4 linked regions of the Homo sapiens genome follow. The protein of the gene in region 3 interacts with the protein of the main gene of each other region in a pairwise test. Each region holds a gene or a part of one and is shown on either strand. Other genes may lie near its edges. The genes, in order: MEIS2, DDX17, PTK6 and ZNF341.

Region 1 (7,024 bases), on a different chromosome or scaffold from region 3:
TTTTACTTTTTTTTCTTCTGTTTCCTACTGAGGGTCTGGGAGTCACTAACAGCAGCTTGAGCTGGGATCAGGGCTGCTTCTGTCGGCCAGGAAGTCCTAATCACCCACTTCTTAATTCTCTGTAAATAAAGGGGGCAGACCTCGAAGTGCAGCGAGGTGGAAGGGACTCTTGCTTGCTTGGAGCCGCTCTTAGGGGGAGTAAGGAAGATGGCTGGAAATTATTTTATATTCTGAGAGCACTTGGCGAGGGGTGAGATGCACGATCCTAACGTGTACCACACGAGCTCTTCCGGCTGAGGGTAGGTGGGCAAAGCGACGGGATGCCGAGGGGAGGGGACAGTGGGTAAACAGCAACTGAGCCCCAAGCCAGAGGCCGCAAGCATCCCGAAGTGTGGCTAAGCCGCCCGGAGGAACACAAAGGGCATACGCGCACGCACACTTAAAGTTTTAAAACACGATTTATTTATTTTTGTCTGCTGCAACGCTGGGAGAAATGTGGTCTTTGGAAGGAAGCTCTCCAGTGTGTAACCTTCCTATTATTTTGGCCCCCACACTGTGGCTTTAGTAGAACAGGAGCAAACAAGTTTATAAGGCAAGGAGGTGGAGAGATTAAAAGAGCATTCTCTTGCATTTATGAAGTGTCACTCCGGTGTGTATGTAGGTGAAGCCTTTGGCCTCGTCTGAAATGCCCATTAAAATGCAGAGTTAAAACTATTTTTTTTTCAATTTCACACAGTGTTCCCTTCTTGGGAGGTCAGGGCTGGGTCTCAGGGGTTGGTTCCGCGGCCTCCGTAGTGTGGGGAGTGGATCAGAATCGACTCGGGCTCCAGACTGCCTGAGCGTCTCGGATGTTTCATTACGTTCCAACTGAGGCTGTTTTTATTTGTCGGGCTGCAGTGGCCGGGGTCTTCTCTGGCCAGATCTGAGGGACCTCTGAGCTGCGGGAGAGGGCCAGGCCCTTTTCCCTTTCTGTTTCTGGCTTAGGCTCGCCTGATGGAGGAAGGGTTGTAAAGTGTGGTGCGTGCCTGTTGTATTAAAGAAGGACTCCACACCCTCCAAACTTGTTGATTACAGTTCTTGCTCCTTCCCCTCTGCACCCCGTCTCTGTGTGTGTGTCTCTGCGTGGCGCTGCCCGTTAGGCACCCGTTGTTTCCTCTGTTAGCTCTGGTCTTTGAGAAGTGCGAGCTGGCGACCTGCACTCCCCGGGAACCTGGAGTGGCTGGCGGAGACGTCTGCTCCTCCGACTCCTTCAACGAGGACATCGCGGTCTTCGCCAAGCAGGTCCAGCCTTCTTGATCCACTCAACTTCGGGCAGTCCCTCACTACCCCTCCCCTTTCCTCGGAGCTTTACTTGAAAGGAGGAAAGGCCAGGGACACCCTATCTGTTCCTCTGGCCCAGTCCGCTCTCTACGCCTCCTCCCCATCCCTGAGCCTGGGGGCGAATTGGAAGTGGAGATAAATATGGGTGTTTGTTTTCCCCCCCAGCAGGAATACAGGGGTCGACCCTCGAATTAAAGTTGACCTGCTCCTAATCTGGGGCTTGGCCTTTTTCCCCCGCCTCCAGCTACTTGAACAAGAATTGGGGAGAGGGGCTGTGAGGGACCCGGGAGTGCCCGGGAGGCAAGGAAGCTGGGCGCCTCTCCGAGCGGTCCCAGGCAGCAGTGGAGAGCCACAGCCTCTTGGACTGCTGGATATGGAACTCGAGGCCCTGAGAACGACCCTGAGTTCCTGGCTACAGCTTAGTCGTACCAGGTCCCCCTTAATGGGGCCAGGACCAGAATGCCCTGATTCTTCTTCAGGGACTCCACTAATTTAAGGCACCAGTTTCTTTCTTGTATTTTGCCAAAGCCCCTTTCCTCTTCTCCGCCATTGCCCTCCACCGTACCCATTCTCACATTTCAGCTTTCTTATTTTAAATGGGGTGATCGTTCAAGTTGACTCTCTGTTTCTTACAGGTTCGCGCCGAAAAGCCACTTTTTTCCTCAAATCCAGAGCTGGACAATTTGGTAAGGCTCTCTGTTCCTTGTTTTTCCCCAGCCTTTGCCCTCTCCCATGCCCAGAAGCACCCACTTTCTGCTGGAGCTCTGGGGAGTTAGAACAGAACCCTCTTTTGGAGCTCTAGGGAGAGAGGGAGGAAGGGAGCAGCTTAGAGCCCCCGCACGGGAGCTGGCGAGCGAGGAGCAGGATGAACGCGGTGGGGAGCGAAGCCCAGGGAGGCCGAAACGGGAGACCGAGCGCCGAGAGCGCGAGCAGGGGATGTTTCCCAGGTCTCGGCCCCAGGAGTAAACTGCGAGAAGTGAGTTATTTCCTCTGTTTGCCGGGGCAGGCGGCCGAGCCCCGGGCGGCTAACCCGAAGGATGTAACCACTGGCACGGCTGAGGGCGGGCTGGGGGTGGGGGCTGGGGGGCGGTGAGGGGCAGGCCAGCGCAGGCCACTTTTAGGTGCGATTCTTTTGCTAATTTGCACGATTTCAATATTAAAAGTACTTAAATCCGCTTTCAAAGGCCCTGCCTCAGCATTCATCTTGAGTATTTCCTTCTTTAGTGAGGAAGGATTTCGCTGGGTATGCTGTTCTAAAAAGCTTTTTCTATCCTGAGAAGGGACCTTTTTTTTTTTTTTTTTTTTTTAAGGAAAAAAAAAAAAGTTGTCCTGAGGTCGAGGGAGGGGATGTTTAAAGAGGACTAAGAGGAGAAAAAAGGCCTGGCCCGAGGAAAGCAGTCTTACAAATAGCACAGTGAACATCAGGGGGAAAGATATTAATGCTTATGCTCAGGTTGAGTCAGATTCCTACCCCGTGGCCAATGAGGCAGAGATGATCAGTAATCACTTGATTTTTCTGACTATTTCTTGATGTTTAAGTTTTTCCTGGCCACCTGCCCGTTTCTTCTCCCCAGCCCAACTTTCTCACCACCATCCTCACCCCACTCCCAACCCCAAGACAGGACCTCAGAGTCACAGAGCTCTAACTCCATTCCCTGAACTTTTCTTTCAGATGATACAAGCAATACAAGTACTAAGGTTTCATCTTTTGGAGTTAGAAAAGGTAAGCAGGAAATAACGCTCCCCGTGTTGATTAAACCATTTCCCTCTCCTAGTTGAGTTGGGATGTTTTTAACAAACCTCTAGTGTGAGGGATTGAGCACCTGGAGATTTTGAGCATGTAACCATGTCCATCCTTCAACTCGCTTCTCAACACAGGGGCTCAGAGGGTGGGTGAATCAGGACAGCCTTGCCTTTAAAGTAGCCTCCTCCTCCCCAATATTCCCCTCAGGCATTCAGGATTATTTTGAAATGCAGCAAACCATTTATGTTACTGGACACTCAGCCTGCTTGCATCTTTATTAGCTCAGCTCACCCTCGGCCCTGGGTTTGCATTAGGTGCAGGCAGAGTGAATCATCCTTGCTGGGTGTCTTTACATTGCTCTGCAGCTCAATTACTTTCCCCTGGAAACATACGAAACCCCTAGCTTATAAAATCACAAACGTTAATGCTCTCCCCAGCTCCAATGTTGTAATGTTTTGATGTTATTATCAAATCAGATTTAATTCCCTGGACTCCCACTCTGAACCCAGTTATTTCCAGTCCTGTTTCTTTCTCTCTCTATTGTAACTTGTTGCTCAGAGAAGTCTCTGGAGAATAATATCTGCTGCAACAATTACTCTATTGTTTCCTTGCCTTCAACTATTACACCCTTTAATTAGAGTTAGTTTGGAAGACATCACACTGTTGCTCTTTGCAAATGTAACCTTGCAACCTGGTATTTTTCCTTTCTAAAAATGAAACAAAACAACAACAACAACAACATGAGCTAAACCCTCCACCATGACCTTCGTTCTAGGTCCACGAACTGTGCGATAACTTCTGCCACCGATACATTAGCTGTTTGAAGGGGAAAATGCCCATCGACCTCGTCATTGATGAAAGAGACGGCAGCTCCAAGTCAGATCATGAAGAACTTTCAGGCTCCTCCACAAATCTCGCTGACCATGTAAGTCTGCTAGCCTTTAGCAATCTTTTAAGGCCACTGGGCAAAGCATTATTTTAACCTTGTTTTAACATCTAGCTCCACTGATTTAGTTTTCTTTTTAAATGACTCCGTCTCTTTTGGGGTCTTTTCTTCTCTTTCTTGCTTTCTCTGCCATACCCTTCATTTTCATTTCTCCTTTCTTGGACCCCCTCCTATTTATGTTGAGAGCCAAAAAACCAGAGTTGATAGAGTGATTTGTGCTCTTAATGTGTAAAGTTTTCTGGATTTGGTGACTTGGGTGTTCGCAAATTCTGTTTGATATAGTCACCACTGTGTTTTCTGCTTTCTTAATTTTGTGTAATCAGTGCAGCAGGGATAGAAAGAAGCAAGACAGTTAGCTGGACTGGTCTGGAGAGAGAGGACTGAATGAAAGAGAATTGAGTGAGTGCTGATTTCCTAGTATGTCACAGAGATGACAATTCTGAGAATTATTGGCAATCTTGCACTGCATTCGAAATAAAAGGGGTGAACAAACACATTACAATTCTCAGGGCTTTTGCTATAGAAACTTATTGTCAGAATAGGGACTTATTGCCAAATGCCTGAAGCATCTTCATAATAAAAGACAGTAACCTTGATGAACCAATTATTAACAATGTATTACAGAAAGCTGAAGGGAATTATGATTGAGTAACCATAGGTTAGTGGTTGAATTTTAACACTTTAACAGTTGGTGAATGAGGATGGAGAGTATAGTAAGAAATGACTGTGTATGTCAGGCCAGGAAAGGAGATTTCTTTCTATTCTCTCTGTTTCTAATCCTATTTTGGAACCAATCTAGTGAGTCTGATGCTAAAAAAAAAAAAAAAAAAAAAAAAAAAAAAAAAAAAAAAAAAAAAAAAAAAGCATATGTAGTGAGACTGAAAATTTGAAAAAGAAGCAAAGAGAAGAAAGATTGCAGCTGGTAGGAAAGGCAAGAGTGGCGAGGTTAAAGAGTGGGTGTGAACAGCAGTTTTATTTATAGGAACTCAAGCCTGGAAATGGGGGACAGGGTGTCTATAGATTACATTCAGTTGAACTCACAGCCTAAATAATATAAGCTGTAGTTTAATAACTTTGTGGCCGAAATATTAATTTGACACTCCGTGTGAGTTAAACAGGCATTAAGGCTTGAAGGCAGTTTGTCCCTACCTCCCATCCCAATTCCTGACTGGTATGAGAAATGAATTGGGATGCCTTAGTATAAACCTTCTATGAGGTTCTTCTCTCCCCTGCTCCAGACAAAAGTTTTGAAAATATGCAGTCATAGATTTTCATAATTAACCTTTGCACTTGTATGGGAAGCCAGCCTAAGAACAAAAGTTAGAAAAAGTCTAGAAAAGAAAACCGCAGTCTGGGATATCCAGTTCTGTGACAGAATAAATACTGCGGTGTTGAAGGCTCCTATTCTTATCTCTTTACCCTTACCTTTTTCCATCATGGTGAGGGAATCTTTGGTGATCTCCTTTGTATATTGAGTGAATGTAATGAAATCAAAAGGATGCAGCAGTGGTTATGGAAAGTTTATTTGCTGATCTGTGGCTCCACAGTGTGTTGTGGTCCATGAGGCATGACACTACCTAAGAAATATTTACATTTGTTGTTTTTTGTGTGTTTATTTTCATTGTTTTCTGTTTCTATATTTATATTTATTCACATTATTGGGAGACTGGGGAGGGATCTATTTACATGGTTTGTAAAATGAGAGGTTCACAGTTCTCGGAGCCAAAAGCTTTTCTCATGATATTTCTAGGAGTACCTACTACTTAGTTTTCTAAAACAGTTTCTTGGCAACTCTTTTTCCAGTGGATGTATACAGCTAGACCATGTTGATGTTTACATAGAAAAGATAAGATAAAATAGGCTGTTTAAAGTATTGGCTGATAGACAATATCAATTTATGAGACTATTGTAATATTTAAATATCCACTCAAGAAGGAAGTTGTACCTAAGAGGATAGTGCTTTAATAATTTATCAATCATCATCTTTGGATAAAAGAGTCAACTGTAACATTTGTTGCTCTCCTTTCAGGCCCCCAGTCAAGTAAATATGACAACTGATTTATTTTGAACCCATGAGGGCTTGCCACTTCATTGGGTGTCATAATTTAAAGCCTTTTATTTCCTAGAGATCTGAACTATAACATTTTTACTTTAGCCCCCTGCTATTTGTTTTGAAAGGAAGCAATAATTTGTTCCACCAGCACACCAAGTAGAAAACGGAGAGATTTGCCACAGACTTGTATTTTATGCAGGGACATGAGAGAAAACCTTGGAGAGTTTTCACCATTTTTGAGACTTTTGTACCATAGGTGTATTGATTGTATTCATGTCCAGGCTTCCCCCTTCAAAGCAAATCCTCTTATGCTTTTCAGCCTCTTCTACAAAGTTGCCTTCCTTCAACCCCCTAGCCAAACACAAAGTAAAAATAACAAAGAACCACTACCTGAAAAGTGGTGTGAGTGGGACATTTTCAGCATGTAAATGTGCCCAATTTGAATCTTCAGGTTTATTTTTCATTTGCTTTGATATGCATATTTAATACATTGCCCCAGGCTGGATCTCATTTGGTGAACACTGGTGCAGGGGTGATGATGAGCCACTTCAGAAAGGCCCAGACAGCGCGTTGTTTTCTTGTTTTATCTGTTGGCCCACTATTCTGATCTGAGCTTCCTCTTGGTTTTATTTGCACATGAAATGCTGAGAGCATTTCAACTTATTGGCTATGAATAATGACAGCTAAAAAAGAAGTGTAGTTTAATTTGTTGTATGCCAAGGTTTCTCTTGTGGAGGTGACAGTTTGTGACAGCTGTTTGACACCCCCAAAACACATACACCTCTACTCTTATTAAGTGGTATCCAGCTTCATTGTGTGTGTGTGTGCATACTCGTGTGTGTGCATGTTTAAGGAAGGAACATGCAAGGAGAGAGAGAAAAGCAGAGAGAAATGCATCAGAAGCAAAATATTAGGTACCAATATAGTTTCAGTATTCTTTAAAAGAATTTGAAAATGTAAA
Region 2 (7,024 bases), on a different chromosome or scaffold from region 3:
GCAATAACAATGAAGTCTTTTATAATTTGCAAGAGTGATAATCCAAAGACTTTCTACCTCTTGAAAAGTACCTTATTTAGCTGCTTCATTTGCAAGTGTGGCGGGAGCGGCAATTGAGGTGGCCTTTTGGTCTGTTCAGTATTGAGTCTTAAGCTGAGGGGCATATTAAATATGTCGCTGACACGGGTATCCCTATGCTATGTGCTCTTCCTGTTCTGATTCTTAATTTGTCTTCACTGTCTCAGTAGTGGTATAAATGGAATTAGCCAAGTTCTGCCTGTTGAGTGTAGGTATCCAGTGATCCCAATAAAATCTCCTGCCATCAATTTTTGTTACGTATGTATTTAGAGGAATGTCTGGCTGGTTAAGCCAGAGTTCTAATGGCTTTGAATTGCAGGAAATTGAGGCCCTGTAGAATAATACACCTACTTGCCTATCAATGATAAAGTGGAACTTTATATAAGATGAAGTTACAAGTGGGTTAGAGTGGGAAAAGGGAACTAAATTCAGTACAATATTTTACAAGGAGTAAAGAAACTGAGAAAATGCTATACAGTTTGTATGCCAAACAAAGACCTGTACTTTACAAGATCGAAATAGGGAAAATTAAGGCCATCTTAGTGTTAAGATTCTTCTAGGAAAAGTAGCTTCTGATTTCTTAAATATTAGCTTTGGCTAGTGGTCATATTTGTATTCCTCTTGAGCTTGTCTGTTGTGAAAGGTATATAAAAAGCAAGAAGTTGATCTTAAGTAATTAGTTGAGTGTTAAAGCCTTAAATAAGTCTTGTTAGTGTTTTTTTCTCTGTAAATTAATAATACCATTTGGGAACAAGAAGGAGATAGAAGGTAAAAGTAGAGATCAAAGAAGAAGGAAAGGTCATAAATCTATGTTCAGCTTTTTTTTTTTTTTTTTGACGGACCCTCCCTCTGTCTACCAGGCTGGAGTGCTATGGTGCCATTTCAGCTCACTGCAACCTCCGCCTTCCGAGTTCCAGCGGTTCTCCTGCCTCAGCCTCCCAAGTAGCTAGGGATTACAGGCGTGCACCACCACGCCTGGCTACTCTTTTGTGTTTTTAGTAAGAGACAGGGTTTCACTATATTGGCCAGGCTGGTCTCAAACTCCTGACCTCAAGTGATCCACTGGCCTCCGCCTCCCAAAGTGCTGGGATTACAGGACTGAGCCACTGCCCCCGGCAGGCTCAGCTCTTTTATTAGCGTAAGCTAAAAATGAAGACCAGTCTACCAGTCCTTTCCAAGACCCAGTTTTGCTTTGCAGATAAGCAGACAGGTGGAGTGCTTATCACAGTTTAATAGGGGAGCAGGCCCAAGAAGCTATTCTAAGATTGAGGGACTTGCTTGGAGTGTATCTTCCTTCTTGTCCACAATCTTCCCTTTAATTGAAACTTAACTTAATGTCATCCTTTGCCTGCATGTCTGTTACACAAAAATAGAGACTTGTGTCTGTTTTGTTTAGTAACTCCAGCACAGCACCACTTCAAACAGTAGCCGATACATACTTGGTACCTAGTAACTTGGTACCTAATAACTATTTGTTGAATGAAATGATGCTAACTTGTACTGAGTGCTGGCTATGCCAGATACTTTTATAGTACATTACACATTATTAGGTCATTTTCTCAGCAGCCTCTGAAATAAGTGGTATTATTTCTACTTTGCATAGGAAACTAAGGTGTGTGGAAGTTAAATAATTCTCTTCAAATTATACAGTAAGTGGCAGAATAAAAACTCAAACCATGTCTGGATCCAGAATCTGTGATTGTAATCCCTAGGATGTATTTCTCTCAATAAAGGGATTTTTAATTTTTTGCCTATTGTAGCTATATTCATAAACAGTATTTATTGTTGGGTAGTAAGGGAGGTTTTACACATTTCTCCATACCTTTAAATCACAGCAAATAAAATGGTCTTTTTGGAGGTAGGCTGGTAGTATCCCTAGAACTCCATCCTTTTTGAATATTCTTATGGCATGTACGATACGTTGCTTTAAAAATACTGATGAACTAACTAAAAATTCTGTTCCTAGATTTGGAGCAAGAGGTGGTGGTGGCCTTCCCCCGAAGAAATTTGGTAATCCTGGGGAGCGTTTGCGTAAAAAAAAGTGGGATTTGAGTGAGCTCCCCAAGTTTGAGAAAAATTTTTATGTGGAACATCCGGAAGTAGCAAGGCTGACACCAGTAAGTTTACATGTGTGTTTTAATGTACAGATTATTGAACCAAGTAGATATATTGGTTAGAGTTTATTCATACGCTACTGTTGCCGTTTTACATTTTATTCTAGTGTGGTGATATTTTTCTTAAAAAATTTTTTGGTTAATTTTTTTTTTTTTTTCCTTTTTGTAGAGACCGGGTTTCGCCATATTCCCCAGGCTGGTCTTGAACTCCCTAGCTCAAGCAAACTACCTGCCTCAGCTTTTCAAAGTGCTAGGATTACAGGCGTGAGCCACTGCACCCAGCTGATTTTTTTTTTTTTTTTTTTTTTTTTTTTTGAGACGGAGTTTTGCTCTTGTTGCCCAGGCTAGAGTGCAATGGTGTGATCTTGGCTCACTGCAACCTCCGCCTCCTGGGTTCAAGCGATTCTACTGCCTCAGCCTCCCAGGTAGCTGGGATCACAGGCACCCGCCACCATGCCCGGCTAATTTTTTGTATTTTTAGCAGAGATGGAGTTTCACTATGTTGGGCAGGCTGGTCTCAAACTCCGGACCTCGGACCTCAGGTGATCGACCTGCCTCAGCCTCTCAAAGTGCTGGGATTACAGGCGTGAGCCACCACGCCCAGCCTCTTTTTATTTTTGAGACGGAATCTTGCTCTGTCACCCAGGCTGGAGTGCAAGAGTCAGGGTTTCACCATGTTGATCAGACTGGTCTCCGTCTCCTGACCTTGTGATCTGCCCGCCTCAGCCTCCCAAAGTGCTGGGATTATGGGTGTGAGCCACCATGCCCAGCCTTTCTTACATTCTTATCTAAGACCCCTAATACTCATAAAAGGGGACCAGTTTAAATATGCATTTAATTTGTTCTCTTGTTGATAATGCTTACTAATCTGTTTATTATACATGATTGAAATATTGTATATTAGGTCATGTTTTTTCATCTGTTAGTGAAAAAGATAGATTGGCTTTTTTTTTTTTTGAGGTGAAGTCTCACTCTGTCCCCTAGGCTAGAGTGCTGTGGCATGATCTTGGCTCACTGCAACCTCTGCCTCCCAGGTTCAAGCAATTCTCCCACCTCAGCCTCCCGAGTAGCTGGGATTACAGACATGTGCCACCACGCCTGGTTCATTTATTATTTATTTTTTTTTTTTCAGTAGAGACGGAGTTTCACCATGTTGGCCAGGCTGGTCTCAAACTCCTGACCTCAAGTGATCCACCCACCTCAGCCTCCCAAAGTGCTGGGATTACAGGTGGGAGCCACCGTGCCCAGCCAACATTGTCTCTTCTTGTACCTCATTACCATTGTTTTTTGGACTCTACACATGAAATGGTTACTCTTTCAGAAGAAAGTGTAATGGAAAGAGTACTTGGGTCCAAGTTCCACTTTTTTTTCCTTCTCATTCTGACCTTGAGCAAGTTACTTATCTTTTTTCTCCTATAGAAAATGGAACTCTTAATCACCTACATCATTAATTAACTTACAAAGTAAGTAGGAGCCTTGCAGAGTTAAAGTGATACACATGAAAGTACCATGTAAACTATTAAATATTTGCCAACATAGCTGTGGACTGGATAATTGCTCAGCTAGCTTGGAACATAAATTCTGAATGTTTAGAATAACTAGTTTACTAACTTCTTTCATTTTTTTTCAATAGTATGAGGTTGATGAGCTACGCCGAAAGAAGGAGATTACAGTGAGGGGGGGAGATGTTTGTCCTAAACCCGTGTTTGCCTTCCATCATGCTAACTTCCCACGTAAGTGTTCTTCAATCTAGAACCTTAATTTGTTAAATTGGGTTGAATGGGAGACAAGGGTAGTAGGTTAAACTCTTTGAGCCAGGCTTGGGGTTTTGTTGAAAGGACAAGAGATTGTTTTTATGGTCATCAGTTCTGTTCTAGTATTTAGACTGAGGTTTTGTTTTTGTTTTGTTTTTTTGAGGTTTTTGTCTTTTTCTAGGGTTTTGCCCTCTGCCTTTTAGAAAACAGCAGAATGAAATTGCTTTCTAGCTGGATATAATGTGAATTTGCTAAACAATAAATGACTACCATGTTCCCATGTCCTGTTAGATGCTTTAGGGTAATGGTTTTTCAAATTTCTGGGAGAGGTAGACTATTGTAGCAGCTTTTGTTTGTTTGTTTTTGGAAACGGAGTCTCAACGTTGTCACCCAGGCTGAAGTGCAGTGGCGCGATCTCAGCTCACTACCTCCTCTGCCTCCTGGGTTCATGCGATTCTGCTTCACCCTCCCGAGTAGCTGGAATTACAAGGGCCCACCACCACTCTGGCTAATTTTTGTATTTTTAGTAGAGACAGGGTTCACCATGTTGACCAGGCTGGTCTGGAACTCCTGGCCTCCACTGGCCTCAGCCTCCCAAAGTGATGGGATTACAGGCGTGAGCCACCTAGCCTGGCCCTTAGAAGCTAACAGTGAGTTGGTCGGAGATCTAGTAGATAAAGAAAAAGCACTTTGGAGAGATGAAGCTGGGTAAATCTTATCTTCAGTGAGCTTAAAAGTTTTTTTAAAAACTCTTGGTTTGTGTCTTTAAACACAATAAAATACGCAAAATAAAATTCTCTTACAGAATATGTAATGGATGTGTTGATGGATCAGCACTTTACAGAACCAACTCCAATTCAGTGCCAGGGATTTCCGTTGGCTCTTAGTGGCCGGGATATGGTGGGCATTGCTCAGACTGGCTCTGGGAAGACGTTGGCGGTATGTATGAGCAAGAGAAGATCCTTGATATTGTGGTAACTTATTTTGCTATTCTAGTTGTCATACGTTCTCAGTTCTTCGTAGAAGTGCCATTCAGATAGTTAGATACTATTTTAGTTATTAAATATATGGAAGCATTTTATGTTCAAATTTGTATTGCTTCCTGTATATAGCAGTGGTAAGTTCTGTTTTTCACTTTCCTATTTATGCATTAATTCAGTAATTACTAAGTATCTAAGTAAGATTGTACTTCTAAGCGTAAGGTTGTCATTCTTTCCCCCCTCCACAGTATCTCCTGCCTGCAATTGTTCATATTAACCACCAGCCATACTTGGAAAGGGGAGATGGCCCAATCGTAAGTGTGTTTCAGTTTCTTTGTAATTCTAAGAAAAACTACAATTTAGCGACTATTTAGGCTTGGTGCTTTACATTATCCATTTGTACTCTTAACCACACCCTCCATAGGTGGAAATGGTTTCATTCTCATCTTACTTGGAATTAAATGACTTACCCAAGATCACTCAGCAATTGAATAGCTGAGCTTACATTTGAACCAAAGTCTTACTCTTAAAGAAACCATGCATGCTGTATGGGCATTTACTGTGCAGTAAATCAAGTGTTTTCTGGTTTTGGTGTGGTTTTTTTTGTTTTTTTGTTTTGATTTTTTGTGTTTTTTTGAGATGGAGGTTCGCTCCGTGTTGGTCAGGCTGGTCTCAAACTCCTGACCTGAGGTGATCAGCCCACCTTGCCCTCCCAAATTGCTGGGATTACAGGCATGAGCCACTGCGTCCAGCCTTCTTTCTTTTTTTTTTTTTTTTTTGGAGATATATTCTCACTCTTGTTGCCCAGGCTGGAGTGCAGTAGCGAGATCTCAGCTCACTGCAACCTCCGCCTGCCAGGTTCAAGCCATTCTCCTGCCTCAGCCTCCCGAGTAGCTGGGATTAAAGGCGTGCACCACCACTCCCAGCTAATGTTTGTATTTTTAGTAGAGACAGGTTTGCACCATGTTGGCCAGGCTGGTCTGGAACTCCTGACCTCAGGTGATCTGCCTGCCTCGGCCTCCCCAAGGTGCTGGGATTACAGGTGTGAGCCACCGCGCCTGGCATTGAATGTGTACTTTTTTTTTTTTTTTTTTTTTTTTTGAGATGGAGTTTCGCTCTTGGTTGCCCACGCTGGAGTACATTGGCACAATCTCGGCTCATTGCAACCTCCACCTCCTGGCTTCAAGCGATTCTCCTGTCTCGGCTTCCCAAGCAGCTGGGATTACAGGCATGCGCCGCCACACCCAGCTAATTTTTGTATTTTTAGTAGAGACGGGGTTTCACCATGTTGGCCAGACTGGTCTCGAACTCCTGACCTCAGGTGATCTGCCTCGGCCTCCCAAAATAATGGGATTACAGGTGTGAGCCACCACGCCCGGCCTACTTAACTTTTTTAAGAAATAAGCTTGCATTTGTCCTATATATTTATGAACATGTACAATATGTCTCAAGATATTCACAAAAAGAAATAATGCAGTACTTATAATACATAGTATATGTCTGACAGCATTATTATTAGTTGATATCTAATGGATCAGTATATAAAGCAAGTTTCATAATTTAATTTGAATGGTATATGATACCTTGATTTTTGTATTATTTGGCCAGATTGTACACAGTCTTGTCAGATTACATGTAAATTTTCATTGTTTTTGCCTTATCTACCTGGTGATGTGCTTAAATTAGAGGTCAGGAATGTGTCATTCTGCCAGTTTAAGTCAGGATGACCATCCAAAATTCCAAATTTTAGGCCAGGCATGGTGGCTCACACCTGTAATCCCAGCACTTTGGGAGGCCAAAGTGGGCAGATCACATGAAGTCAGGAGTTCGAGACTAGCCTGGCCAACATGGGGAAACCCCCATCTCTACAAAAATACAATAATTAGCTGGGCATGGTGGTGCCTGCCTCTAGTCCCAGCTACTCAGGAGGCTGAGGCGCAGGAGAATCATTTGAACCCAGGAAGCAGAGGTTACAGTGAGCCTTCATTGCACCACTGCACTCCAGCCTGGGCGATAGAGTGAGACTTTGTCTCAGAAAACAAAACAAATCCAAATTTTGAGGACCAATATGATCCTCAAAGTAAATGCTTGCTGGAGC
Region 3 (6,880 bases):
GCGTCCTGCTGCACGAGGTTTTCACCTATGGCCAGTGTCCCTATGAAGGTGGGTCCCCAGGCAGCCAGAGGGAGGATGCAGGCTCTGCCCAGGAGTCACTGGCCCCGGGCCTGGACGCTGTCGGCAAGGGGTTGGAGGGTCTGGCCAAGGGCAGGCAGATGACATGGGGGGCTACAGGAGGCCTCCTCCATAGGGACCCCCAGGCAGAATCGAGGCAGCTCTTGCCCCGCGCCTCCCAGGGATGACCAACCACGAGACGCTGCAGCAGATCATGCGAGGGTACCGGCTGCCGCGCCCGGCTGCCTGCCCGGCGGAGGTCTACGTGCTCATGCTGGAGTGCTGGAGGAGCAGCCCCGAGGAACGGCCCTCCTTCGCCACGCTGCGGGAGAAGCTGCACGCCATCCACAGATGCCACCCCTGAGTCCTCACGTGACCCAACGCTCTGGGCTCCAGCCAGGCCAGCCCCTCCTCCCTGCAGAGCGCCAACTCGAAGGGATGCCGGTCTGCCGGACCGAGGAGCCTCTGGCTGTGGGCCTCAGGCCCTGGCGTGCACACATGTTCGTGCACCAGGCAGACGTGCAGACGGAGGGCTGGGGCTGACGTCCCCCGTGCAGTGTGACTCGTGCAGACGGAGGGCTGGGGCTGACGTCCCCCATGCAGTGTGACTCGTGCAGACGAAGGGCTGGGGCTGACGTTCCCCGTGCAGTGTGACTCGTGCAGACGGAGGGCTGGGGCTGACGTTCCCCGTGCAGTGTGACACGTGTCCCTGGCCTCTCAAGAGAGACAACGGCACAGGAGGGTGGGTAGAAGCCTCGGAGGCTCTGGGTGAGGAACCCTGAGCCCTGTGTGTCTCCTGCCTGGGTCCCCTGGACTCCCTCCCAGGGTGAAGAGCCAAAGGCCCAGTTCTCTCCCTAGTCCCAGCTTGGGTTTGTGGAAATGACCAGTGCTGACTCCCAGGCAGACCGTGGTGTTGACCCCACTGGATGTGTGGTATGTAGGCACGGGGTGGCACCGTCACCTGCCCCTCACAGACACACTGGCGGCCTGTGCACAAACCCACTCACGCACACAGCACTCAGTAAGCCGGGACTGACCCACTCAGACACGCACACAGGCGCACATCACACACAGGCTCAGCCCCCCAAACCCAGACCCAGGAGCTGGAGCGTACGGGTCCACGTGGCTAGAAAATGCAGGTTGGAGCGGCCCCCATGCCGCCCGGACCCCCAGCCCAGGACATCATGGTGCCCAGAGAGCGTGAGCCCCAAGGGCATTGGCAGGAGCTGCCGATTCCATCTCCCTGGGTGGGTTCCAGGTGGCACAGGAAGGGTGGGCCGGGAGGCTTGGTGACCTGGGAGCTGCCCTTGGAGGCTATTTCCAGGGGCCTCAGGGTGGGCCGTGGGGGATTTGGAGTCTTCTGCCTGTGCAGGGTCAGGCAGGGTCGGTTGGGGGCTCGGAGGTAGATGCCATGGTATGCTGGGCAGCAAGTGGCTCAGGAAGCCTCTGGGTGTGAGTCCTCGGGGGTCACCAAGGCAGGAGGGGGCAGGGATGTGCAGGGTCCGCCCTCGTCTCCCCACGTCTGGCTCAGGGAAGCTTCTGCTCAGGTCTTCGTGAAACACGTCAAGAAGCAAGGGGGCCGGTGGGGTCTGTTTGTGGCCCCCGGAGACCCTGCCCCCCACCCTCCTGGGAGCCCAGGTTGGCAGCTGTGCCCAGAAGGCTTTCGGGGACAGAAAGTTTGGAGACAAGTTCAGGCCTGACTGAGTCCTTGTCCCCTAGAGTTGGGGTCAGCTCTGTACCTGCTGAGCCGAAGTGCTGATGGCTGCCGTCCACAGGCCCCGGCCAAAGCCTGGCTCAGGAGGGAGCTAAGAGATGAGACTCCCGTGTGCAGAGACAGGTGGCCCCGGGGAAGGAAGAGGCCACTCGGAGGCTCCGAGAACGGAGGCAGCGCGGGGGCTTCCTGGGGCCCGTGCATCGGAGGAACAAGGCCAAGCGGAGGGAAGCAGCAGGAACCAGGACCCCTGCAGATGGTGGAGGCAAGAGGCTTTATCTGAGCCTTTGGGACCCTGGCCACCTGCCCAGCTCCATCTGCATGGGAGAACCTAGGGGAGGGGCTGGTTCTGGTACCTGGGCCCACTGAGGCCTTGAGCTGAGCTTCCAGTTCTGGCAGGTCCCCAGCACAGCAGCCTGGGGGCTCCTCTGGCACAGAAGGCCTCGCCCTCTGTGCTCTCTGCAGCCGCCACTGGGATTAAGGGGACCAGGTGTGTCTGTGGCACCTGTGCCCTCCTAGGCATCTCGCCAGCCACCAGCTGAACAGGTTTGGTGCTCCTGGGTATCTGGGAGGGGCTGGGGACGTTCCTGCCTCCTGGTGTGGCTTAGACTGAAAGTCCTGCACGTCCGAACTCAGGGATACTCGAGGCTTCCTGGACATAGACTCACGGGCCCAGAGTCTGGCCGGGCTCTGAGGGACGCTGCCCGGCCAGGTGCCCCGGCACCCTCCTTCCGCATTCCCCACCCCCCACCCCTCCCCCTGCATCCTCCCCAACCGACCCCAGACAGAGCTGGGAGGGCCTGAGGGACACTGCCCAGGCCGGCACCCCGCTGCCCCTCCCCACCTTGGTCAGCGCTGAGCTGGGCTGCCCAGAAATCTATGAGCCTGTTAAATAATCCAGATTATTGTTCTTAATCTCAAAACAATGAGTGGAAGGTGCCATTATTTCTCTTTGCAATAAAAATAAAAGTTGAAATACGCAGTTTAGGGACTTTCCTTACCACCCCTTGCAGACTTTGAATTTCCCTTCCCGCCCCTTCCTGCCCCCTTGTGGCTGCCAGTCCAGGTCCCTGGGTTGGAGCTCCCGGGTGGACACAGTAGGGTCAGTGGGAGGGTGGGGCGGGGAGGGGCCTCCAGGGAGGGGGTGTCCCGAGTCTCAGGGGCTGGGGGGCAGGCGGCCGTCGGGTGCAGGTGGGGGTCACGGCAGGGCTCACTCAGGCATGAGTCGGGAGAAGGGAGGCCAGCTGGAAGGGGGCAGGGGTCCTGCGGGCTGGACAGGAGGAGGCAGAGGCTGGAGGCGGGAGGGGCTGCCTGGGAGGGACCTGTGGCCTTGGGCCCCAGCGCCATGGGCGCTTCCAGGCCGCACTCACGGTCCTTGCCTGCCCCCTGGCGTCCGTGTGGAGGAAGGCAGTGCCCGTTTCTTCAGCCGTGGGTGCCCCTGGCTCTGCCTCCCCGGGGATCCCCCAAAACCCTCGGGCCCTCCTCTTCCGGGAAGTCCTCCGGGCCGACCCACACAGCTGTCGCTGCCCTGATTCCACTCCCTCTTCCCTGCTTGGCCCTTACCCGAGGGCGGGCCTGCCCATGAGGCCGCTCTCAGGACGCCTGCCCACAGCAGCTCCTGACATTGGGCCCTGTGCTCAGGGGTGGAGTCTGGGGCTGGGTGAGGGCACCGACGGGTGGAGGGGAAGCTGCCGGAAGCGGGGAGAGAGGCGGCCCCCACCTGTGCCCCCGCAGCTCTGAGGGTTGGGAAGGCAGCGCCTGCAGCCCTCACCTTCCTGCCCTCAGGCTGCGAGGCTTGTTCCCAGAGGGCCGTTGGCTTCCCTGAGTGCCTGAGTGTCCATAAGTTGGACCCCCAAGAAGCCCCAACCGGGAGGTCCTCCTCCCCCTCTCCTGCGCTCAGGCCGGCCCTGGCGGTGCTTGCCCAGTGGGTTCCCATAGTGCGGGCGCTAAGTGCTCAGATGGGCCCCAGTGGGCCTGAGGACTTGTGGGGCCGGCTGGGCCCTCAGGAGGAGCCGGGGTGCTCTGGAGCGCCTGTGGGTGCTGGGTGTGGCTGCTTCCCGGCCTGTCATGAGGAAGTGGGACGGCCCGCCTGCCACGCCCAGCTCTGGGTGCTCCAGCTGGGCCACAGCCTGGTCCTGCCGCTGCGCCCGCCCGCCATGGTGTCCCGGGACCAGGCTCACCTGGGCCCCAAGTATGTGGGCCTCTGGGACTTCAAGTCCCGGACGGACGAGGAGCTGAGCTTCCGCGCGGGGGACGTCTTCCACGTGGCCAGGAAGGAGGAGCAGTGGTGGTGGGCCACGCTGCTGGACGAGGCGGGTGGGGCCGTGGCCCAGGGCTATGTGCCCCACAACTACCTGGCCGAGAGGGAGACGGTGGAGTCGGAACCGTGCGTGTCCTAGGCTGCTGGGAGCTTTGGCACAGGCCACCCTCTAGGCACAGGGGAGGGACAGGGCTCTGGGCTGCTCAGGGAGGCCCAAGAAGGTGGGGACCCCGGTTCCATCTTCCTGCACCCCAAAGTCCAGGCTGGGCATCCCGCTTGATCCTCCCTGCAGGCCCCATGCGCTGGCGCCCAGGAGTGCCCAGGACTGTCCCTGCGGGAGTTGGAGCACGGGGGTCAGAGGGCACGGCCCCTGCCTTGGGCTCATCCTTGTCACAGCTCGGGGGTGGACGCTGCATTGCCGGGACCCAGGGAGGACAGAGGGTCCAGGGTGGACTTCTGGGGCCCGGTGGCCAGTGACAAGGTCTGTCGGAGCGTTCCAGGGCCTTTGGGGGAAACGAAGCTTGAAGCTTGCCCAGTTTCCAAAGTGCCGGAACCAGACACACGACCTAGTTAGGGGAGCGGGCCGGCTGCCGGGCAAACTTCCTGCCTGCTGTGCCCTGCGGGGAACCAGACAGCAGCTGGTGTGGCCTGGCCCTGGCTTCCACAGCTGCCCGGAGCTCAGGCTGAGGAGGGTCACGCTCCTGAGATCCCGCGTTTCTCATCAGTGATTGGGCACCCACTGTGTGTGTGCGTGAGTCACAGGCTGTGTAGGGTTAGCTCCCGGGGGACCCAAGCAACAAGCAGGGGAGGCTGTAAAGAGGCCGTCGGGCAGGGGCCCATGGTGGAGACCCCTCTATTACGTGCAGACCCACGACCTCGTTAGCAGGGTCACGCGCAGACCCACGACCTCGTTAGTGAGCAGGGGTGCAGGGGTGGGGTCTGGCCGGAGGCTGGTCAGCTCCCAGGTGCAAAGACCCTGAGTCCTGAGAACTCGCCCAGGTGAGAAGTGGGGAGGAGGCCAGGTGAGGAGGGGGTGGGAGGCCAGGTGGGGGGGGGAGCGGGAGGCTAGGTGGGGGGGGCTGGAGGCCAGGTGAGGGGGGGCGGGAGGCCAGGTGGGGGGGGCGGGAGACCAGGAGAGGAGGGGACGGGAGGCCAGGAGAGGAGGGGGCGGGAGGCCAGGAGAGGAGGGGGCGGGAGGCCAGGTGAGGAGGGGGCGGGAGGCCAGGTGAGGGGGGGGCGGGAGGCCAGGTGAGGGGGGTGCGGGAGGCCAGGTGAGGACGGGGTGGGAGGCCAGGTGAGGGGGGGGCGGGAGGCCAGGTGAGGAGGGGGCGGGAGGCCAGGTGAGGAGGGGGCGGGAGGCCAGGTGAGGGGGGGGGCGGGAGGCCAGGTGAGGAGGGGGCGGGAGGCCAGGTGAGGAGGGGGCGGGAGGCCAGGTGAGGGGGGGGGCGGGAGGCCAGGTGGTTGGAGGGGCAGGTGGGGCAGTGCTTCCAGGTGTGCGGAAGTGGAGGGGGTGGACCCCAGGGGCTCCATGCTGGGCCGTGGTCTTCTGTGTGGGGTTTGTGTTCCAGTGACCTGAGGGAGTCAGACACACAAAGGGCGCAGGTCACCTGGAGCTTCTGCAAGCTCCACCTGGAAGTCCACAGTCCAGGGCTGGCCCACACCCCGCAGCCGGGAGTTAGTGCGCGCGAGTGGCTGTGTGTGCGTGCGTGTGAGCGTGTGGGCAAGTGAGCACACATGCGCGTGTGTGTTCAGGTGTGCGGGTGAACTGTGCGCATGTGTGGGGGTTTGTGACTGTGTGTGTGTGAGCGTGCGTCACACATGGGTGTGTGCAGGCAGCTCTGGGCAGCCATCCTGCTCAGCTGCCCTCCCCAGCTCCACCCTAGGCTCTGACCCCTAGACTCGGGCCACTCAGGGCAGGGTGTGGTAGCGCCTGCCCCTGCCCCCGCCGGGTCCTCAGGGGCCTGTCCTGGCCTTTCGGGACATTCAGGGCGTCTGGGTCAGCGACAGCTCCTGAGAGCAGCTGTGGTCAGGGCTGGGAGCTTGAGGTGGCAGGCAAGGGCGGCTGGGGTTCCAGGCGGGCAGGCTGGGGCCAGCGTGGGGTCCACGTGGGGTGGGCCCAGGTCCGCGTGTTCTCAGACTCCTCCCCTGCAGGTGGTTCTTTGGCTGCATCTCCCGCTCGGAAGCTGTGCGTCGGCTGCAGGCCGAGGGCAACGCCACGGGCGCCTTCCTGATCAGGGTCAGCGAGAAGCCGAGTGCCGACTACGTCCTGTCGGGTGCGGCCCCGGCCTCCGAGCCTGTGCTTGCCTGCGGGGGCTCCTGGCTCTAAGCCCTCCCAGCCACGTGGTGAACCCGGCTCGCTCTGGCTGAGACGGGGGACATGGGCTCCTCTCCAGGGAGCTCCCATCCCCTCCGCCCACCTGGCCCGCTCCTCCCTGGGGCCTGGGTCACTGGCTGCTAGGGTAGTCGTGGGGCAGGGCCCCTCCCTGGGAGGGCAGGGGCTTCTCCAGCCAGCCCTGCCCGAGGCACTCGTGGGAGGTCCTCAGCACCCATGGGAACCTCGCCCAGCATGAGACCTGAGCCTGGGGTGTGCGGGGCGCAGAGAAACCCCATCCCTGCCCCTGAGGATCTCAGCATGGCTGGGATTTTAGGCAGCTGCCATCCAGGCGGAGGCCACTGGCTGCCTGGCACGGGGGCAGGAGGGGCCAGAGAGCTTGGCCAGAGCGTGCAGGGCAGGAGGGAGCCGTTCTGAGGGAGGGGAGGCAGGGGTGGTACTGAGGAAGCACCAACAGCAACTGTGGGGACCCAGAAACTCTGCGCAGGTGTGGCCAGCAGGGCTGGGGACGCAGGGAGGC
Region 4 (7,024 bases), about 30 Mb from region 3:
AACACAGAAACAAACTTTAATCTTGTAGAAACCATGGTAAACTTCAACAGCTAGAACCAAATCCCAAGTACTCTCATAAGATTCCTATGAGGCAGAACAATTGTCCCTATTTTACAGGTGTAGGAACTGAACCACAGAGAAATTCACTCACTTGCCCACGGTCACAGAGCTAAGAACTATAAGAACAATAATTCAAACCCAGCCATTTATCTCCCTGCCCCTAGTGTGATTCCCAAGTACACAAAAATGTTTGTGGAATGAATAAATGAACACAGTCTCACATAGAAACTTCCAAAAGAAGGCCCTTACAGGCCAGGTGCAGTGGCTCATGCAGGTAATCCCAGCACTTTAGGAGGCTGAGGTGAGCAGATCACCTTAGGTCAGGCGTTTGAGACCAGCCTGGCCAACATGGTGAAACCCCATCTCTATTAAAAATACAAAAAATTAGCCAGGCGTGGTGGCGCACGCCTGTAATCCCAGCTACGCAGGAGGCTGAGGTATGAGAATTGCTTGAACCTAGGAGGTGGAGGTTGCAGTGAGCCAAGATCGTGCCCTGCACTCCAGCCTGGAGGACAGAGTAACACTCTGTCTCAAAAAGAAAAAAAAGAAAAAAAAAAAAAAGAAGACCCTTACAGGCCTGGCCCAGTAAACAGGAGCAATTCATGCTCAGCCTATTCTTTCCACAGAAGGGAGGCTGAATAATCACTTCCAGGGCAAAGGCACAGGCATTGTTGTCAGGCATTGGGGCCCTTAGCCATTCCCTGCATCTTGATCCCATCTCCCCACATTTACTAAGCAATTGAGAGCAGTGTCCTCAGAGCTAAGCAGAGAAAGCCGTGAGCCCAAAGATCCCGGCTGGGAGGCGGGGGAGAGGGTTCAGACACCAGAGCATGTCCTGGGGACCACAGCAAGCATTTCACTCCCACAGCCCAGCACAAGCTCCACCTACTCTTCGCGGGGAGCCATTCACTCTCCCACCGGTGAACCTGAGCAGATACTCACCCAATGGCTGGATAGCAGGGGGCGCATTGACACTCTGGCCTGTCGGATCAGGGACTGCTCCTTGGCCATCCAATAATGACTGGACAGCCAGAACGGTCTGATTGTCCATTCCTGAAAAAAGAAGTGCAGCCTCTTTGGAAGGTAGGCCCAGCATCATGCTCTGACATCACCCTTACAAGCCAGACCCAGGCAAAACCCCTGTGGCGGCTGGGTACGGTGGCTCAGACCTGTAATCCCAGCACCATGGGAGGCTAAGGTGGGAGATCGCTTGAGCCCAGGAGTTTAAGACCATTCTAGGCAGCAACATAGTGAGACTCCACCTCTACAAAAAAATACAAAATTTAGGTAGGCTTGGTGGTGCATGCCTGTGGTCCCAGCTACTAGGGAGGCTGAGGCGGGAGGACTGCTTGAGCCTGGATGGTCAAGGGTACAGTGAGCCATGATCATATCACCTCACTCCACTGTACTTGCTCTTGACAGAGCAAGACCCTGTCTCAAGCAAGACAAAACCCCATGGCAAGGATGGCCGGCTATGCCCCAATATACATTCTCTTCTATTTCCATTGTGAGAGAGCCCAAGATTTTGGGCTGCAAAGATGGCCCCCAAATAAAGGTTACACTTCCCAGGCTCTCTTACAGTTAGGGAATGACTAAGTTCTGGCCAAAGGAATGTAAATGTGCTATGTGGCAGCTTCTGGAAAGTTTTCTTAAAACTGCCTGATATGTGACCCTCTTCTTTGTCCCATCCTCCTTTCCACTTCCCAGAATAAGAATATGGTGGTAGCAACTCAATCCACCATCCTGGATCATAAGGACAACCTTAGGATCGTAGGATAAAAAGCTGGATGGAGCCAGGCGCAGTGGCTCACGCCTGTAATCCCAACACTCTGGGTGGCCAAGGCGGGCAGAGCACCTGAGGTCAGGAGTTCGAGACCATCCTGGCCAACATGGTGAGACCCTGTCTCTACTAAAAATACAAAATTAGCTGGGCGTGGTGGTGTGTGCCTGTAATCCCAACTACTTGGGAGACTGAGGCAGGAGAATCACTTGGACCCAGGAGGCAGAGGTTGCAGTGAGCTGAGATCCTGCCACTGCACTCCAGCCTGGGCAACAAGAGCGAAACTCTGTCTCAAAAAAAAAAGCTGGATAAATCCTGGGCCTCTGAGAACCTTGTAGAACACAGCCATCTTCCTATCTTAGACTGCCTTCCTCTGGACTTTCATGTGAAAGAAATAACCTTCCAGCCTGTTGAAGCCACTGTGACGTGGGGCCTGTCTTACTCATGGCTGACGCTAATCCTAGGTGACAAAGTCCCTCCAGAAATCACGTTAGCCAGTTTTCCTCATGCACACTCCCCAAACCCCACAAATCTGTGTGCACGCGGGCGTCCTTGCCTTCCTTATTTCTCAATGTGTGTCTATCTTTTTTGTTCTGCAATAAACAATAGACTCTGAATTGGTGGCTGGGGGATCGAGAAACTGACTTCTTCCATGTTTTCTAATCAGTTATCACAGTTGAAGTTCACAGTAGTACACTGTCTGGCCATGTCACTAGCCGGATGACAGGCCTCCTCACATCTCAGTGGCCACCAAGGCACACTGTGCCACTCCCAAAAGACCCAGATGGTGCCTCCTCTCTATGACCCCACAGCCGATGCTCTGCCTCCAACCTCTCAGCTTTTACTGGGATGTCTTCCCCAGCTTCTAACTGCAATGCAAATTGAAACCATCAGACCAGTTATCTCTGGCCGGGCATGGTGGCTCACGCCTGTAATTCCAGCACTTTGGGAGGCAGGGGCGGGTGAATCACGAGGTTAGGAATTCAAGACTAGCCTGGCCAAGATGGTGAAACCCCATCTCTACTAAAAATACAAAAATTAGCTGGGCATGGTGGTGGGTGCCTGTAATCCCAGCTACTAGGGAGGCTGAGGCAGAGAACTGCTTGAACCCGGGAGGTGGAGGTTGCAGTGAGCGGAGATGGCGCCACTGCACTCCAGCCTGGGTGACAGAGTGAGACTCCGTCTCAAAAATAAAATAAAATAAAATAAAAAATTGAAACCATCAGCTACTGCAGCCAAACTGAATCCATGCCTTCCCTTGTCACAATGCAGGCTGTGTCCCTCCTGACGCTGCCAGCGCAGCCCTCCCCTCCATCTCCTCCTGCTCCTCAGAAGCCACTCTCCACCAACTCTCACCACACTGTGCCTGGGAACCATCCACAGCTACACACGATCAGTCTCTCCAGAGTGCCCTCCTGCAAATTCATGTTTCCATCTCTCCTCCCTTCAATGGCAAGTATCCCATGAGGGTCACCTACACCCTCTATCTCTTCTACCACCTTCCAGTTCTCCTTCCCCACTCTAGTGGGACTTAAGCCCTCCACTATCTGGAACCACCTTTGAAAAAGTTGCAAAGTGAGAAAATCATGACAGTGAAAGACACCTGACCTAACGAACCCCCATCTTGCCTTTAACCTCCAAACTGCCCTTAGTAATCCCTGGGCTTGGGCCAAGATAACTAGGGAGAAATTTAGTTTACAGTTTAAATGATAATAGCCCTTCCCCAAAACTAACCCTCCTTTGTGAAGCTAATGAAAGACCATGAGGTTAGGAGGATAAGAGGAACCTACATTCTGGTAAGGTGTAGACATAAATATTACCAGCCATTATTCCAGAGATCACAAGATTTGCAACTTCCCCAATTACTCCTGCATATAATATTATTATCATTATTATTATTTTGAGATAGAATCTCCCTATGTTGCCCAGGACAGTCTCAAACTCTTGCACTCAAGGGATCCTCCCACCTTGGCCTCCCAAAGTGCTGGGAATACAGGCATGAGCCACCACGCCTGGCCAACTTTTTTTTTTTTTTTTGAGATGGAGTTTCACTCTTGTTGCCCAGGCTGGAGTGCAATGGCGCAATCTTGGCTCACTGCAACCTCTGTCTCCCGGGTTCAAGCAACTTTCCTGCCTCAGCCTCCCGAGTAGCTGGGATTATAGGCACACGCCCCCATGCCTGGCTAATTTTGTACTTTTAGTAATGACAGGGTTTCTCCATGTTGGTCAGGCTGGTCTCAAACTCCTGACCTCAGGTGATCTGCCCGCCTTGACCTCCCAAAGTGCTGGGGTTACAGGTGTGAGCCACCGCACCTGGCCCCAACATCATTATTATAGAACCTAAGATTAGCCTTTTGAGATATCTTTTCAGATTTTTGCATTTCTGACAACCAATGGCTCCACGTAGACTCGCCAATGAGTCCTGCAGCCCCACCCAGAAGCAGACTCTGCATGTAGGAGGACCATTTTCCACAACTCTATGATTGCACCTCCAACCAATCAACAGCACCCATTCCCTTGTCCCCCAAACTATCTTTGAAAAAACCTAGTGTCTGGCTGGGCATGGTGGCTCACGCCTGTAATCCCAGCATTTTGGGAGGCCAAGGTGGGCAGATCATGAGGTCAGGAGATCAAGACCATCCTGGCTAATACGGTAAAACCCCATCCTTACTAAAAATATAAAAAATTAGCCGGGCATGGTGGCAGGTGCCTGCAGTCCCAGCTACTTGGGAGGCTGAGGCAGGAGAATGGCGTGAACCCAGGAGGCGGAGGTTGCAGTGAGGTGAGATCACGCCATTGCACTCCAGCCTGGGCAACAGAGCGAGACTACGTCTCAAAAAATAAAAAATAAAAAATAAATAAATAAATAAAAATAAAAAACCTAGTCTCTGAATTTTCTAGGAGGCTGATTTGAGTAATAACACAATTCCAGTCTCCTGTTCAGCTGGCTCTGTGTGAATGTAACTTTTTCTCTGTCGCAATTCCCCTGTCTTGATAAATTGGCTGTATCTGGGCAGCAGGCAAAATGAACCCATTGGATGGTTACAGTTCCACCAAAACACTTTCCCCATCATCACCAAAGACCATCTGGCAGCACCTGCCACTCCCTGAAACACTCTGTTCTTGGCTCCAGGGCACAGCCTTCCTGGGTCTTCTCTACCTTTCTGTGCCTCCTTTACTCTCTTCTCCTGGCCACCCCCTAAGTGTTTCCATTTTGAGGAAACACTTTGTCCTTTGTTCCTTTGTCTGGACTCTCTCACCTCTGCCTCTCATGCTGTCCCTGGGCAGTCTCACTCACCCCAGTCTACTTCCTTCCAATATCTGGAGTTTCAAGCCTGGGGTTCAAGCTCTCCTGAACAAGCTTCAGTGAATCTTCTACCATTTTATGCAAAATTGTGAGTGTTTTAGCATTTGTGTGCAAATCTGTATACAAATGTTCATAGCACTTTTAGGTATAACAGTAAAAAATTTAGCCTGGGCAACATGGTGAAACCCGTCCCTACTAAAAATAGAAAAAATTAGCTGGGTGTGGAGGCACGCACCTGTAGTCCCAGCTACTCGGGAGGCTGAGGCAGGAGAATCGCTTGAACTTGGGATGTGGAGGTTGCAGTGAGCCAAGATCATGCCACTGCACTCCAGCCTGGGCAACAGTGAACACTTTGAGATGGAATCTCCCCATGTTGCCCAGGTGAAAACCTGGTGGTCTTTCAATAGCTTTACAAAGACAGTTTAGTTTTGGGGAAGGGCTATTATCATTTAAACTGTAAATTAAATTTCTGCCGAAGTTAGCTTGGCCCAAGCCCGGGGATGACTAAGGGCAGTTTGGAGGTTAAAGGCAAGGTAGGGATTGGTTAGGTCAGGCGTCTTTCTCTGTCATGATTTTCTCACTGTTACAATTTTTGCAGAGGCAGTTTCAGAATGGTGGGGGGCTTAAGCCCCACTAGAGTGGGGGAGGAGGGCCAGAAGGTAGTAGAGGAGATAGAGGGTGTAGGAAATGGTTCAGAAGAACATCTGAACTGTTTCCAGTTTTTACTTTTTTTTTTTTTTGAGACAGGGTCTAAAAAAAAAAATAGTAAAAACTGGAAACAGTTCAGATGTTCTTCAGTGAGTGGTTAAATGGTGAAATAGCCATACTATGGAATACTACTAAGCAATAAAAAGGAACAAACTATTGCTATACACAACAACTTGGATGAATCACTAGGGAATTATGACGGGTGAAAAAAGCCCATCTCAATGGTATACACTTTATGATTTCATTTATATAGTATTCTTGAAATCACAAAATTTTACAAATGGAGACAGATTAGTGGTTGCCAGGCATCAAGGATGGTGGGAGAAGGGGAGGATTTAGGGTGTGGCTATAAAAGGGCAACTCCTTGGAGTGATGCCCCTGTTCTGTATGTTGACTGGTGGTAACACACTGTAGTTGTGCAAAATGTTACACCAGGGGAAATGGGGTCAAGGACACGTGGGATCTCTCTTTATCATTTCCCACAACTGCATGTGAATCTACAGAAAAAGTGATTTCAAAATAAAAAAATTTAAACAAATGCAGGGTGGGTACAGTGCCTCATGCCTGTAATCCTAACACTTTGGGAAGTCAATGCAGGAGGACTGCTTGATGCTAGGAGTTCAAGATCAACCTGGGCAACATAGCAAGACCTCATCTCTAGAAAATTTAAAAAATTGGCTGGGTGTCCTGGCACGCACCTGGGAGGCTGAGGTGGGAGGATCACTTGAGCCCAGGAGTTTGAGGCTGCAGTGAGCTATGAATGCACTACTGCACTCCAGCTTTGGAGACAGAGTGAGATCCTGTCTCTACAAATAAAAATAAAAAAGGCTGGCTGGACACAGTGCCTCACGCCTGCAATCCCATCACTTTGGAGGCCAAGGCGGGCAGATCACTTGAGGTCAAGAGTTCGAGACTAGCCTGGCCAACATGGTGAAACCCCGTCTCTACTAAAAAATACAAAATTAGTCAGGCGTGGTGGTAAGCGCCTGTAATCCCAGCTACTCAAGAGGCTGAGGCAGGAGAATCGCTTGAACCTGGGAGGCAGAGGTTGCAGTGAGCCAAGATCGCACCACCCCAGTCCAGCTTGGGTGACAGAGTGAGAGTGTCACAAAAAAATAAAAAATTAAGTTAAATTAAATTAAAAAGGCAGCCTGGGCCAGGCTCAGTGG

The links.
Region 1: the proteins of PTK6 (region 3) and MEIS2 interact in binary tests that used the Homo sapiens proteins (3 or more experiments, as listed by UniProt).
Region 2: the proteins of PTK6 (region 3) and DDX17 interact in binary tests that used the Homo sapiens proteins (3 or more experiments, as listed by UniProt).
Region 4: the proteins of PTK6 (region 3) and ZNF341 interact in binary tests that used the Homo sapiens proteins (3 or more experiments, as listed by UniProt).

Annotation. Positions count from the first base shown.
Region 1 is NC_000015.10:37,090,546-37,097,569, reverse strand, and holds part of MEIS2 (homeobox protein Meis2), read left to right. Parts: intron 1-1,139; coding exon 1,140-1,281; intron 1,282-1,955; coding exon 1,956-2,006; intron 2,007-2,992; coding exon 2,993-3,043; intron 3,044-3,839; coding exon 3,840-3,989; intron 3,990-7,024. UniProt on the Homo sapiens protein: Involved in transcriptional regulation. Binds to HOX or PBX proteins to form dimers, or to a DNA-bound dimer of PBX and HOX proteins and thought to have a role in stabilization of the homeoprotein-DNA complex.
Region 2 is NC_000022.11:38,496,301-38,503,324, reverse strand, and holds part of DDX17 (probable ATP-dependent RNA helicase DDX17 isoform 1 precursor), read left to right. Parts: intron 1-2,044; coding exon 2,045-2,195; intron 2,196-3,825; coding exon 3,826-3,925; intron 3,926-4,751; coding exon 4,752-4,885; intron 4,886-5,174; coding exon 5,175-5,240; intron 5,241-7,024. UniProt on the Homo sapiens protein: As an RNA helicase, unwinds RNA and alters RNA structures through ATP binding and hydrolysis.
Region 3 is NC_000020.11:63,534,359-63,541,238, reverse strand, and holds the start of PTK6 (protein-tyrosine kinase 6), read left to right. Parts: upstream 1-3,862; 5' UTR 3,863-3,924; coding exon 3,925-4,154; intron 4,155-6,179; coding exon 6,180-6,301; intron 6,302-6,880. Other genes in the region: tyrosine-protein kinase Srms, read left to right, coding at 1-48, 240-421. UniProt on the Homo sapiens protein: Non-receptor tyrosine-protein kinase implicated in the regulation of a variety of signaling pathways that control the differentiation and maintenance of normal epithelia, as well as tumor growth.
Region 4 is NC_000020.11:33,734,991-33,742,014, reverse strand, and holds part of ZNF341 (zinc finger protein 341), read right to left. Parts: intron 1,114-7,024; coding exon 1,003-1,113; intron 1-1,002. UniProt on the Homo sapiens protein: Transcriptional activator of STAT3 involved in the regulation of immune homeostasis. Also able to activate STAT1 transcription.